Homo sapiens: one gene and its partner. The protein of the gene in region 2 interacts with the protein of the main gene of each other region in a pairwise test. Each region holds a gene or a part of one and is shown on either strand. Other genes may lie near its edges.

Region 1 (7,819 bases), on a different chromosome or scaffold from region 2:
TATGTTGTGTGTGTGCCTCCTCCCCACAGCTAAACTATACATGTCTTATTCAAGTACCGCATAATATACTATCACTGTGCCCTAGAGCCACCTAGTACTGAGAGGGGGAAAGATTTACCAATTAGGTGATTAAGAAAACATAGCTGAATATAATTATCACCAAACTCTGAAAATCAGTATGATAGTAATTTTTATCTTGCCGTTAAAATTTTAGCCCTCCCCTGTCACACACAAAACAGCTTTTGAAATCTGAAGCGCGTAACTTCTAACATACAGTGAAGTGTATATGTAATTTTTGTACAGAAGGCACAACCATGATTTACAGTAATAGCTAACACTTCAGTAGGGTTTACTTTATCCAACATTCTTCTGAGTGCTTTGTATGCATTTATTTAATCATCACAGCAATACCTAAAGGTACAGTTACGGTGATTTTGTAGATAAAGAAACTGAGGCATACTGAAATTAATTTACTTGTCAAAGTCACCCAACTACAAATAATGGAGCTGGGATTTGAACTTAGATTGCCTGACTCCTGAGTCCACGCTCTTAACCATAAGAAGTTTTAATATTTCAGCCATCATTACTCTTGTAAACACAATCACTCTAAAAGGATATACTTCATAGGGTACAAAGATTTAAACAAATACTCCAAAATCAAATAGCCATAAAAATTGATCCCTCCTAGCTCAGCATAATAAAATAAATTTCAAATGTGAAGCATCCAGCAATACTTTCATCTATATGAATGTAACTGAATTCTCAGCTTGTGTACTCTTTCTGCTAGATGACCAAAAGCCGTCTCATGATCTTGGGGTTCTTTTTGAGTAATAATTCAGTGATTTATGTCTTGTGTCAAATTCCTTAAAGTGCCCTGTCAGATACAGCTGATTAGTAATAGCCTTAAGAGACTCTCACTTGCTTTCTTATGTTAGTATGAGGATATTACTGTTTCAGATTTATCATTTGCAGCTTTTTAAAATATAGGATGAGGAAAATAGTTTACTGTCTTGTAATAATTTATGAAGCCAGCAGAAATTGTAGAATCAGATTTGAAATGTATATCAAGTGTTCTTTAATGTGGTCATTTTGAAATTAAGGTATTTTTAAAAACTTAAACTTTTTTTTTAAGTTTCAAATTGTGGAATATACGTGATTAGTTTAATAATTTATCCTGTAGCATACTCTTAGTGAAAGCAAAAAGTGATTTGCTTCTTCGTTATTAATTTTTAGAGTTGCATTCCAGAAAGGATAATAGAGTGTTTGCTACCTAGTAATTTTTAACGTTCCTCTCTGTGGGTTCATATATATCCAGAAACTCCCGAAGACTTGCCATATAGCTTAAAAAGCCCTGGTTTAAGCAAATACTTACTTTAGAGCAATTTCGTTCTCCAGAAATTGTGTGACTATTTTTAATCGTATTAAGACGTAAAGTTTGTCCTCAATTTATTTACAGCTATGCTTTTCTACCTCCTAACTTGGTCTCAACAATTAATTTAGGTTATAATTAAAGGCCTTTAACTGTTGCACACATTTTGAAATGGCATGTGCAACTGGGAATCATAGATTTTTGGCTCTCTCATGTTGATTTTTAATCCAGCGAAACTAAATTTGGAAATTTTCAAGTCGTAGCTCCTTTTAAGCAAAAGGAGCTTCCCAGTCTTCTTAATTTGACATGCTTGAACAGACTAGGTTAGATGGATGTCTTAAGCAGAATGAGCTGTTATAATTATAGTCCTTGTCATCTCAAATAAGTTTAATATTTCATTGAATTTAGTACAGAAGAATGAAAAGAACATTTATTCTGGATGAAGTATAAGTATCCCTTATAACATATTGTGTTAAGGTAACACAGTCATAAAATACCTTAAGAACATAAGCAGATTATCACCAATTGCTTTTCTGATTGAGATATATGGAATTAATTATGGCATAATCAATCATTAAATAATTTTTTAAAATCTAGTAATTGAGATTAATAATATAATATTAGTCTAAACAAGTATTTACTCTATTATTTAGTTTCATTTGGTATAACAAAATGAGTTTTGAAGATAGATGAATGTTAAATTTCTAAATTCCAGAATATGTTCTGTTAGTGTTCTGAGGGAGGAAAGGTGTTTTATTTTTCTGTGTTGATTAGAAGACCCCTTATAGTTTTCTATTAGGTACTTCTCAAGTGTAGTTGGACCACACTTCATCTGTTTTTATCATCTTTAGGGAAATGAATCCTTCCACATAATGAATTTTCCAGATGATTGAACTTTACTTTTACAGTTGATAGTTTTTTTGAAGTTTAACCATTTCCTAAGTTTCTATTAAATTAATTACCCATATTACCACCTTCTTAAGCAGAGAAGTTTCAGTATAATTTAAAACTTTTTCTTATGACTCAAAATCATCAATCATCAATATCAGTATTACTATTATATATATCAATAGCAATAGCAATATTGATATAATCAATAATCAAATATATTAGTAATATAATAATACTGATACTGCCTTACAGTAATGTCCTCAGGAGACTGTAGTATATAAGACTGTTTGCCCTATATACTGAATGGTACTGGACTATCATGTTTTTGGGGCCATTTGTCTGCTCTTGTTTTTCATCTTGTCTCTACCACTTGGTGCAATTTGTCTGTCCTTAATCCTCACTTTTGTACCCTGCCCAAGGTTTGCTACATGTGATCTGAGTAAATAGTAAAAACCTCTCGGTGAAGATCTTAACTGTTAGTAATGTTTATGAATATTCAAGGATAGGCATTGTCATATCTGTCTTGGGTTTTTTAGAGTTGGGTTTTGGTATTAGCTTTTTGTCTTCCTGATTCTCAGCTGTTTTTGAAGGTGGAGGGAGAAGCATTTATTTGTGTACCTGCTTTGTTCTGGGTAACTTACATGATCTCACTTAATACTCATCTCACTAAATCTTCACAACAATCTTATGGGAAGATACTGTTTTCTCACTTTATGATGAGGAAAATGAGGACTACAGACTGATTAGGGATAAGATTTATCTGATTTCAGATCTTGTCTGGGCTTTGCATGAAACCAGGCTGCCTGGTTATGATCATCAGATCATAGTCTGCTGCCTTTCCACTCTATTGTGCTACTTGACCTGGTTAGGTACTTGATTTCTAGATGAATTAGTTATTAACTTGTATAAGTCTCAAGTTTCTAGCTTTGAGTGAATGCGAGTTTGAAGTAGTACTAACATGGGAATGGTGACCTTCAAAACAGGTGACCTTGATAAGTGCTATATCCCTGGCCAGCTTTTTTGTGTTGCTTCATAGCTGAGCCACATCAGTTTTATTTAGCTCTCTGTATAGTGGATCAGTTTTATTTGGCTCTCTGTGTAGTGGTATTAGAAACTACCATCTTGACGTTGTTCTGTCACCTGAAGGATGAGCAAAGCAAAAACAAACTATATGTATATATCTATATGGGGGGAGGGAGAGAGGACAGGTTTATGAACCAGTTGTACTGTATGGACTTGATCAAGTACAGTACATTGTGCATAGTAAAAAAAAATCAATGTCTGAAAAAATAGAAAAATAACATTAATGAACTATTAATATATGAGAAGCAGTTAATACATTTTATTCTAATGGAAATTTTAACTAACATGACTTCAGAGTAAACACTCACAAGTCCAGCTGAACATTTTATTTTTAAGAAAAAGACAAATTAACTCTTTAATCAAACATTTTTTTAAACTTAGGTCATGTCATATAAATGTATGATTATTTCTCTGATAATGTAGAGTTTTTCCAATACTTTTCTTTCATGTTCAGTGATAGGAAAGCTGAGTAGATTTTAAAAGGGATAATTTTTCACAGTGAAAATTACAATATATTCTTTCATATTATATGTTCTCTTTGCCTTGTGTTTAGATTTTTTTGACAATTTATTATTATTATATTTATTGTGGAAATGGAGCTTGTTGTCTTCCGTGCCCTATCCCACACATTTGATTATGAAAGAGAGATGTTACTATATCATTCTTCTGTAACCTAAAAGCAGTCAGGTTTTATATTATTTCATATTCAGACTGCTGTCAAGAAACCAATTATAGTACCTGACAGATCCCACTAAAATTTAATTTTTGAAAAGATGTTTCAAAAGACCAAACGCTTCACTTAATTAGAAAATGTTTGGAAACAACCTAGTCTCCCTGTATTGCCTTGTTTTCCTAATAAATTGTCTGTAAGTGATTTTTCTATTAATCTGTTTAAAAGCAGAATTTATTTTTGAGCTTTAGGGAAATATGTCTCATTTCAACTTGCTCTTCATTTTGATAATGGACATGCTTTGCTTCTTCAACAACAGGACAATAGCATCTTTAATTTTTTTATTTTGCATTTGCGTACCGAAAACGTTTTAGTTGTCATTTTTATTTATGTATTTTATTCATAAATGCATCTGTTTCTATACTTTTGTATTAGATTCTGAGGCAACAGAAGAATAGTGATAGTGTTCCAGAGTTGCTTGCTCCTTCTGCCAACTCATGTTAATCTGAGGTTTACAATTCAGCTTTCCTCCAAGGAATTTTGACACTTTTGCATATTCTGCTGTATGGAAATGTAAACTTCCAGAGTTATTGTCTGGAAACTGAATTTCCTATTTTAACCTTATTTCGTTCACACTGCTGCTTGGATTGCAAACCACATGTTTTAGTCTTTATAAAATGTTTGTATCTTCTTGCAAGGATCGCACTTCAGCAATATCTTTGTCATTCTGAAAGTAATGTTTCCGAATGTAATGGTGAAGAATGGTAAGTGGAATCATTACTTCCAGAAGATCACTTACATATTTACTTCATGTTTGTATTCTCATTTGAGCACCTATTCTCCTTTGGAGCACTACATGTGTTCATATATATTTCAGATATCTCATCTTGGCGACTTGAGAAGGGAGTTCATGGTTTTTCTGTCACTTTTTATATATACATTGAACATGCATCTCCATCTACATTTTATTTTAATTCTTTTGGACCTTGATGAATTCTAGATCCAGGTTGGAAAAAATATGGACCTAGCCATGCAAGATCCATTTCTTAACTGCTTTGCTCTCATTTGCCATTGCTGCTGCTTATCTTCCATCCCCTATTGGTAATCAAATCGCATGTTTATAATCAAGATTCTTTCTTCTCTGTGACATTTGTTCTGTGATATAAATGCCATTGGTTTTCATCCAGACTGTGATCTGCCTTCTGGTTCTCACGGAGTAGTACACATGGCCATTACCAGACTCCCTCAAGTGCCAGAAGCAATCAAATATTTTGAATTTTCTCTTATTTTTCTCATTAGGGTGCGGCATAGATGCCAAGCAAGTTGAGGAACAATCTGCAGCTGCAAATGAAGAAGTACTTTTTCCTTTCTGTAGGGAACCAAGTTATTTTGAAATCCCTACAAAAGAATTCCAGCAACCATCACAAATAACAGAAAGCACTATTCATGAAATCCCAACAAAAGACACGCCAAGTTCCCATATAACAGGTGCAGGGCATGCTTCATTTACCATTGAATTTGATGACAGTACCCCAGGGAAGGTAACTATTAGAGACCATGTGACAAAGTTTACTTCTGATCAGCGCCACAAGTCCAAGAAGTCTTCTCCTGGAACTCAAGACTTGCTGGGGATTCAAACAGGAATGATGGCACCCGAAAACAAAGTTGCTGACTGGCTAGCACAAAACAACCCTCCTCAAATGCTATGGGAAAGAACAGAAGAGGATTCTAAAAGCATTAAAAGTGATGTTCCAGTGTACTTGAAAAGGTTGAAAGGTAAAGTGATTTGATCATTCAGAACTTCCTACTTTACGATAAAGAAAATCTGGTCTTCATTTACTAGACTACTAGTAGATACTTACATGGTAGAAAACATTCTGCTTTTTTCAAAGGTTATATTTAGTCTTAAAACTAAACAGGAAGCTACACTGCCCATGTCCAATTTCCTCATTCAAAATAGTCTTCCTTCATTTTCTTGACAAAACCAGATTGGTTTTATGAGCTTATATTTATGCTATAAAACATGTTTCTTTTTCTTCTAGAAATATAAGATTTATTAAGTTTACCAGTAGAGTTCCCTAGAAGATGAGTTCCATCATTTTCTTGATTTAAGGAAAAGATATATTCAATTCTGTTCTCTATTGAGATCAATATCTAGATTCTGAAAGAAATTTTAAGTCATTTGGTCTGAGCCAAAAGTTCTACTTTGGTAATGCAGTCACATCATTGATGGAGCGCTTCAAAGTATTCTCAGTGGTTACTCATAAAACAAAGATTTTTGGTTTAGAAATATTTGGTAGGATCTATTAATCCAGTTTTAAAATTTTTTTTAATATTAGGACTTCATGAAAATTAGAGTTGAATGTTCATTTTTGAAATAGTTATATATACTTTATTTGTGTAGAACTTAGCCAAAATTAGTACAATTTGTATGTTTGTACACTGATGTATCAGCTGATCAGTTTTTTCTCATTGGTTTTGCCAATTAAATTTATTTTAGAATTGAGTATAGATTTATGTTACCCTATCTTTTATTTAATAAGCTATCTATAAGGAAAACGATTTTGAACAAATTGTGATTACACGTTTAGCTGACCATTCTGTTACTATATTAGGAGTTTTTGTACTCCTAACACTTCATCTAGTACTTGAGCATGTGATAGGTACTAATTTGAAAACAATGGGCGATTTCTCTGTCAATGACAAGACTGTCCCTGATTTAATCTGTACCTTATGTCCTGGCATTCTGATCAAGTAATGAAGAAATAGTATTTGTATACTTATTTCTGATTTGCTTCTAAGACATTTCCGGACAGTGAGATGATGTGATTACCTAATTATTTGTTGGAGCCTATCACAATATTTAATTATAGTTATCAGCAGTTACCTGGCATATGTATTTTTGAGACATGATTGTGACATTTTACTTCTAGACAATACGTAATTGAGACATTTTGTTTCTGTAGGTTAACACTCACAAACACATAGGCTGTTTATATGAATTGGATAAATAATATTGATCTCCTAGTACAGTATAAGAGGTAGCTGAACCTTGAGAATTTAGAAATAACTTAGACTTTTTAAAACCACTCTTAATAAACAAAAACTGAGGTAAAATATCCTTTTAAAAGGTAATCATTTTAAAAATACCTTTATTAAACCCATTTATAACTTAGTCATTATAACTATTTTCTATATTGACTATTATTATTACTACTATTTTTTTTTTTTTTTTTTGGAGACAGAGTCTCGCTTTGTCACTCAGGCTGGAGTGCAGTGGCGCGATCTCGGCTCACTGCAAGCTCCGCCTCCTGGGTTCACGCGATTCTCCTGCCTCAGCCTCCCGAGTAGCTGGAACTACAGGCGCCCACCACCACACCCGGCTAATTTTTTTTATTTTTAGTAGAGACGGGGTTTCACCGTGTTAGCCAGGATGGTCTTGATCTCCTGACCTCGTGATCCACCCACCTTAGCCTCCCAAAGTGCTGGGGTTACAGGCGTGAGCCACCGCGCCTGGCCTGTATCGACTATTATTTTTAAGCCATTATTTTAAAACGTTCTGTCCTCACAAGCCCATTTGTGGGCCTAATTCCAAATAGAGGGATTAATGTCCACATGTATACTATATCTGTATTTTAATGATTAGATCTTTTAAGCCCTTACTAGAAATTATGTAATCATATTACTGTTGTCCTTCAAAGTTGATTTATAGGTAGACATACATTCCAGTATGGTGCCAGTGTGAGAACTCTTCTTTTGGATTTGCCTTCAGACCATTTTACAAGCCATTGAAGATAATGTTTTTG
Region 2 (7,819 bases):
TTATATAATTATATCGGAACATACAATGACTGTGTTGGACTTAGAATTTTTTAAAAATAAAGAAAAATCTCATAAAATGTCTTATGATATGATTTATTACATGATAATACAGAGACTTTTTCTAATAGCGGCTGAGTAGCACAGCGATTATGGTGATATCCACAAACCCATCCCCAGCATACTGAGGACTGTGACTGCTTGTGAACTTTGAGTATTTATAAGTAAGTCCAAAGGACTAAGGATATTGTCCATAGCATTTCCTTCACCTTACAGAATTAAGGAGTATCAGGAAACTGTCTTAGAATTCTGCTTGTGGGCTGGCCAGTGTAATATCTGCTGTAGAAGTGACTCATTAATAAACACAGAAGCATCAGGGAATAAAGATCTCTCAAGCGTCCTCCTTAGCACAAATGGTAAACCAGGAGGTGCCAGGCTCACTCACTCATTCACTCTTTAGAAGGACTAACCTTCCTGCAGGGTTCCCTGCACCCCCAGTGAACTCTGCCCCCGGCTCCCAACTGCCCTGTGATTCCTCTGAGTTTGAGGAAGGGGAGGCACATAACTACATGACTGTTAATCCCAAGAATTCAACCTTCCTCCTGCACTGTCAGTCATCCTATTTCTTTGGGGGACAGAAGGTCTTCTGTTCCCTGGCTGGCATACCAGTGGACAGGAAAGAAATCAGGAACTGCCTTTACTTAACAGGTAGCTTCACAAACCTTTTTCCATATGTAGCACTGGATTTGAGTTGCAGTAGCTTGTTTTCCAAAGACAGTTTTCTTTCTAGTAGTGTTCTCTTTTCCTAGGAGAAAATAAGATACAAATTTTGCTAAACTGCATGTGTATGTTTGGTAAGGCCTTCCTCTTGTCATACTATAACTATGGCTTGAGCTAAAGAGTTAATTTCACATGTGCTGTTACTCCTCATCTTCAAGGAAACCTGGCCAAGTATTCTCCTGTGTGCTTTGCACATAGTTCAACTATAGGCCAAAAATAGTTGTCTTCACTCTCTCACCTGCCTGGAGGACTTCTTCTGCTCCTCCTCCAGGGCATTGCCCATAGCCTGTTCAGCTCAACCTCTCCCACTAATCTCTCCCCATCCTACCACATGTAAACATCCTGCCCATCTCTCGCTAGACCCTGGCTCTCCCACCCTTACACCTGTTTCGCCTACATTAGACTGACTTGTTGGTATCCAAGGACACTAGATACCTCTACATACTACTTGGCATCTGTCAGAAGGTAGTAAAGCAATAAACATGTTTTTGATGAAGGATCAAGGCCACAAAGGATACAACTGCTTTCCAATTAGGATACAGGAGAAACTGAGATTGCAATTTTATGATGCTAGGAAAGAATATCTTTTAAAAAGATGCCTTAATTTGATTATTAAGCCAAAGCTTTTCCATCCAAAAGGAAAACAGACAAGACCATGAAAAACGAAGCTGAGATGACTGTGTTCATTTTATATTTGATGGCACTCAGCTGAAAAAAAGGAATTTGGTGCTTTGGCCTGATGGTTTAGGTTGCCAAGTTGGAAAGAATCAAGGGAGATTGAAAAAAGGCAGGAATTGGTATTGGCAACATGGATGGAATTGACTGGAAGAGGCGTGCCGAAACCATAATGCTGTTTAAAATTACTTCCCGCTGCAGCATCTGAGTGAGTGGTACACAGCAAGGCAGTGCTGTATAGAAGAAACATCACAAAGACTGTACATAGGGACTTACCTGGTTTCTAAATTTTGGCCGAGGTTTTAAACTCTCTGGGCCTTACCAATGTTAAGAAAAATTAACCCAAACTTGGAAATAAAAACAATATACAGCATGCAGTTTTAATATCATATTGGGTCATCATTTAATCATCTGACCCAAGATTTATTTAATTCTCTCAGAGAATTTCCCTGTGTTCGCTTTTATTATTTATTATTTCATTAGAGCCCTGAGTCTGTGAAGTTGCATGTAAATTTGTAGATTTCTGTCCGGTAGAAGACATAATCCCAAAGGTTATGATTTAATTGCCTTAAAGAATATTAACCATTTTTTAAAAATTTAATCTAGTACTCCTATACTATTTTTCACTTTTTCTCCAAAATGCCTATAAATGGCTAGTTTCTGAAAATATTTTATTTAAACCAGCTTTCTCATCTTACTGTTTCCCTCATTAATTAATGAGTTAGTTACAACATTTGACTTGTATTCATTCTATATTCATTTGACTTATATTTGTATCTTCTGAGCATTCCTAAAATGGGGATAATATTACCTATATTGAAATGTTGGGATAATAGAGATAATATATGTAAAAGGCATACAGGCTTCCTGGCACATATTTGGACCTCAATATATAATAATTTGAAGGCACTAATTACTTCAAATCTTAATGTGTTCTGTTATGTTTTAAAATTAGCTTTTTCAAATTTTTCTTATAGTATTCTTGCCAGATAGAAATTGTCCTGGAGTTTCCCTAGCTGTGTTCAAATTATTTCTGAAGGATCACAGATACTCACTCCCTTCCTTCCTTCCTTCCTTCCTTCCCTTCCCTTCCCCTCCCTCCCTCCCTCCCTCCCTCCCTCCCTTCCTTCCTTCCTTCCTTCCCTCCCTCCCTCCCTCCCTCCCTCTCTCTCTCTCTCTCTCTCTCTTTCTTTCCTTCTTTTTTATACAGAGTTTTGCTCTTGGTGCCCAGGCTGGAGTGCAATGGTGCGATCCTGGCTCACTGCAACCTCCGCCTCCCAGGTTCAAGCGATTCTCCTGCCTCAGCCTCCCGAGTAGCTGGGATTACAGGCATGTACCACCACGCCCGGCTAATTTTGTATTTTTAGTAGAGACGGGGTTTCTCCATGTTGGTCAGGCTGGTCTCGAACTCCTGACCTCAGGTGATCCACCCGCCTTGGCCTCCCAAAGTGCTGGGATTACAGGTGTAAGCCACTGCGCCCGGCCCACAGATACATCTTACAAGCGTATGATAAGGCTTGGATTGTCAAAAAAAACACACCACAGATAATGTATTTTGAATTTGTAGGGTGAGGGAAAATAGTGCCTAACAAATGTTAAATAGACTTACTCTTGGTTAATGGATTTTCATAAACAGGGGTCAAGGGGACCAGACAACCGGACAAGTAAATGCTCTCCCTTGGCCAGGCTCTGCCATCTAGCTTGGGTTCTTTTTGCCTCCTCTTTGACAATACAGAAAATCTCACCATACCAGATAGCGCTTCTCAGGCAATGTCTTCAGGAAAGGGAAAGGGAGTTCACAGCACCACACAGTGGGCAACCCCACTATTCCCAGAGCCATACCTCCAGACAGCTCCAGGTTTCCCTCACCAGGCTGATCGGAGAGGGCACCAATTTCAATCATTGCCAAATGCTAACATCTAAATGTTTTGGAACCAAGTCTATCATTTTTGTCCAGCATTAGAGAAGACGGGGGCATAATGGAAAGGGTTGTGATCTAGAAAGTGGAGGATTGTGGAATAGTTTCTGGTTCATGCTGTCCTCATTTATAAAATGATGATGAGGAACTAGGTGGTCTCAAAAGTGCCTTTGAGCTCTAAAATTGCAATGGAGCTAAATCAATGACACTAGAAAACAAATATGATGTAACAGAATTGCACTGCTAGCAAACGGAACATATGCCATATTAAAATGCTCTTATTGGGCATTTTTGCTAGCTTATCACTGTGCTTATGGAATTCATTCTCACTGCATTCCTGATTAAAGTGGGACAGACGGTGAAGGTTTTAAGTAATATGTTCATTACCAGACCTCATACTACTAATGGCTATTTACTGGAGCGGTGGATTGTTCAAGTGAGTAGCAAGTAAATTTTTCTCCAGGGGGCACCTACGACCAGGCCAATATTTATCAACCTTTGTGAGGATGTTTGTTTTTAAGTTTTACTTTCTTTTTGAACTTGTGTCTTTTTCCTATTAATACAAAAGGCCCAGTACACCCTCCCCTTACTCTGGCTTGCGCTCCCCACCTGAGACACCCTTCCTCACAGCCTGTCTTCTCAGTCTCTCTTTAAACCAAGAAGTTGCCAAACTTCATTCCTTATAGTTTTATTTATTTGCTTGTTTCACAAATATAAAATATTTTTAAACCAATTTGGTTTTTTTTTTTTTTGAGACAGAGTCCTGCTGTATCACCCAGGCTGAAGTGCAGTGGCGTCATCTCGGCTCACTGCAGCCTCCACCTCCCAGGTTCAAGTGATTCTCATGCCTCAGCCTCCAGAGTAGCTGGGACTACAAGCACATGCTACCATGCCCAGCTAATTTTTGAATTTTTTTTTTTAGGAGAGACAGGGTTTCACCATATTGGCCAGGCTCGTCTTGAACTCCTGGCCTCAAGCGATCCTCCTGCCTCAGCCTCCCAAAATGCTGGAATTACAGGCGTGAGCCACCACACCTGGCCTAAATCATTTTTTATTTTAAATAAAACTGCACATTTCCCCTCCACATCATCCACACTTACCTCCACCCTCCAGAGATTCCAGTAGGCTTGCCCTCCAGAAAGTCACTGAACTATTCTGGAAGGTTGCTGCATGGCCTTACTAAGCCATGTGCATCCTGTCTGCTTCCTTTGTCCAAGATCTCCTGGAGACAGCCCACTGTTGCGAGTTATTATCAGGGCAGGAGATAGGCCATCACTTCCCAAGAATGTCCTGCCAGGATCTGAGCCACTGAACCTTATTCTGGGGCATGCTCCTCTGCCTTTGACTGGGCTTTCAGCCTCCCTAAAGGACTCATAGAGGAATTAAGAAAGGGAGATCTGGGAAGTTCCTTGAGCCTCACACAATCCAGATATACTACATTGTCATCTCCACAAAAAGAGACTGTCTGGTTCATTCACAAATATATATTCAGCCCCTAGTTCTATGCTACACATGGTGGTGTTCAAATATTTGTTTAGTAAACAGTCAAGTAAATATACCCCAGAACTCTGAGATGAACTAACATCTAGTACACATTTCTTGGGATTACTAGGAAATAGAAATTATCTTCCACTGTTCTTTCTTTTTTTTGACACGGAGTCTCGCTATGTCACCAGGCTGGAGTGCTGTGGTGCAATCTCGGTTCACTGCAACCTCCGCCTCCTGGGTTCAAGCAATTCTCCTGCCTCAGCCTCCCAAGTAGCTGGGACTAAAGGTGCGTGCCACCATGCCCAGCTAATTTTTGTATTTTTAGTAGAGACGGGGTTTCACCATGTTGGCCAGGATGGTCTCGATCTCTTTGACTTCATGATCTGCCCACCTCGGCCTCCCAAAGTGCTGGGATTATAGGCATGAACCACCATGCCCAGCCTGTTCTTTTGTTAATTTGGGGGCAGTGACGGTTGCCACTAAACCTGACCAATATCACTGGGTTTGAGATGGCGTGAGCTCTAGACTAAACTTAAATTTTAAGCTGGTTAATCAAGTTGTTTGGTTAAGCAATTTATTCGTTTCCCAGAATTGTCTTTCTTTCCTTAATGCAAACATTCTTTGTGCTATCTTAGTTTTGTTAAGCTATTTATTATAGGATCAAGTATTCTACCACTACCAAGTATACAACCAAATATTACAGTTTTTCCAACACAGCATAATTATAAATTGTCATGCCTGGATAAACTAATTGCTTAAGGAGACTCTAACCCAGTGATTCTGCTAAAGTATAACACTCAGTGACCTTCCACATAATACACATGCAGCTGAATATTATCTTAGAGCCACTTGATAATGGGCATATTTAATTTTTGTGATTTCCTCATAGGAGCTTCACCAAGACTACAAATTCAACCAAATCACAATGTCATAAAACTTTAAATTCTTGGGAAACATTTTTAAACAAATCAAGTTTCCTTTGGTAAGAAACCTGAATATTGAAATGTGATGTTTTTGAAATGACATTTATAAAATGGCATAAACCCAGGCAGACTCATAAAACAAATTAAAGCTAAAAAGAATACAGGCAAATACAATAAATATAAAAAATGTATTGGGCAATATTTACTAGTATCCAAAGCCTATATTTTTCTCTATCCCCAATTCAGTTTCAGAGATGCCAGTTTTCTCTTTGTTTTGCTAATAAAAAATATTCCTTGATTTGTCCAAATTCTAAATTCTATGGCATACATACACAAATTTATGTGTTCACCTTTTGTGTATATTTTGAGTGCCAGCTACTTAAATGAACATGGCATGAAACATTTTAAAATTTTTCTTCTATTATTGCTCTTCTCTAAATATGCCTTCTTAAAGTTCCAATTTCTATAGAATAGATTTTCTTAATGTGAACTGTATCTCTCCTAGTGCAGCCGTAGGTTTTTCCAAACACAAAGTAGACTTGGGTGGCCAAAAATGGATACTGCACTGACTCTAATACATAAAAATGCTGTGATTACAGGGAACTGCTACATTATTACTCCTAATAGATGGACTTTGTGATCTTTTCCATTATTTGCATTCACAGCCTCACCTGGTTCCCCTTTCTAAGTCACATATTTCCTAGAAAGAGAAAGTGACAAATGATGATATGACTACAGTATTTGCAGAAAGGTAAATCAATCACCACAGTATAGATCATATGAAATGTTTATGGGAAAAATTAATATTAAATACTTCCTAAGGCCAAGAATTGTAAAGAATACTTTCACATAATATTATCTTATTTAATTTAATATCCTATTTATTTTAGTATTATTTTATTTCATTCTCATCCTAATGCTGTCAGTAAGAAAATCCTCTAATTCTCCAGGGGCGTACCTTTTCCATTCTCTGTACAAGGTTCTCCAATTCTGTAATTTGACTGTGTTTTTCTTCAAGTTTTTCAGCAACTTGATTCAGATTTTCAACATGTTGTTTCAATTTCTGTTCTTTTTCAAGCTTGTTAACCTATGGTCAGAGAATCAGTTGTGTTGTGAAAACTCTGTTTTTCTTAAACCTATACACATATTACCTCTTTCTATAATTTTCTAATTAGCCAAAAAAATTCAGAATTCATACTTGTTTAGAATTACTCTTTTGATTTCAGTGTTTACTTCAAAATAACCCTGATAGACTACAACAACATTAAATAGAGAATTAATAATGTATAAATATTCTTCCTAGAATGTTTCCATTTGTTACCATAAAGCATACTTCCTGAACAGGTATAAGAGAGAAAGATGCTAATTTAACGAAAGCAACATTTTTGACTTTTTCTCAACAATTATTATCCAGAACAAAAAAAACCTTACATGTTCAATTAAAACACGTTTTATGTTTAATTAGAAAGTGTCATAAAAGCAGAATAACTCCTCAGTGTGTCATGGTGCTACTTCATAGGCATAGAGCAGGGGTTGTTCTGAACCATCATAGGAGAGAAGACTCCATCTAGCAGGCAGTAAGCTACAGTGGGACTGTGTCGACTAACTTGTTACTCTTCTGTGTGTGTATTTAACAAAGCTTGACATTTCACAGGGAAAAATAAGTGTCTGGCTTCCCTTGTAAATACCAAGTGGGCCTTCCAGTCAGGTCACTCCAGGCTGGTGCCGAGCCCACATTACAGGGATGCACACTTCCCGTCCCCACAAGCGCCCCCATAGCATAGCACCCTCATCCGCTTCCCGCTTATGTTCTTCATCTGCACCCAGCATGCATGTGAGTTTGCAACCATCACTACCACAGCCTGATGCATGAAAGGGTGTCACCTAGGCAGTGAATTTCCTACTGTACTCCCCTGAGGACCTTCTTAGAGCCTGAGCTGACAGACACCTGGGTGCCCCAAACTATGATGAATGAACTTTCCTATTAGCTGTTTTATAGTTTTAATTTTGGCAAACACACACACACAGGCATACACAC

Evidence for each region. Proteins that work in one complex are often made in the same cells at the same time.
Region 1: the proteins of CCDC68 (region 2) and CEP170 interact in binary tests that used the Homo sapiens proteins (3 or more experiments, as listed by UniProt).

The regions. Positions count from the first base shown.
Region 1 is NC_000001.11:243,188,988-243,196,806, reverse strand, and holds part of CEP170 (centrosomal protein of 170 kDa), read left to right. Parts: intron 1-5,312; coding exon 5,313-5,789; intron 5,790-7,819.
Region 2 is NC_000018.10:54,928,081-54,935,899, forward strand, and holds part of CCDC68 (coiled-coil domain-containing protein 68), read right to left. Parts: intron 6,869-7,819; coding exon 6,740-6,868; intron 803-6,739; coding exon 720-802; intron 1-719. UniProt on the Homo sapiens protein: Centriolar protein required for centriole subdistal appendage assembly and microtubule anchoring in interphase cells. Together with CCDC120, cooperate with subdistal appendage components ODF2, NIN and CEP170 for hierarchical subdistal appendage assembly.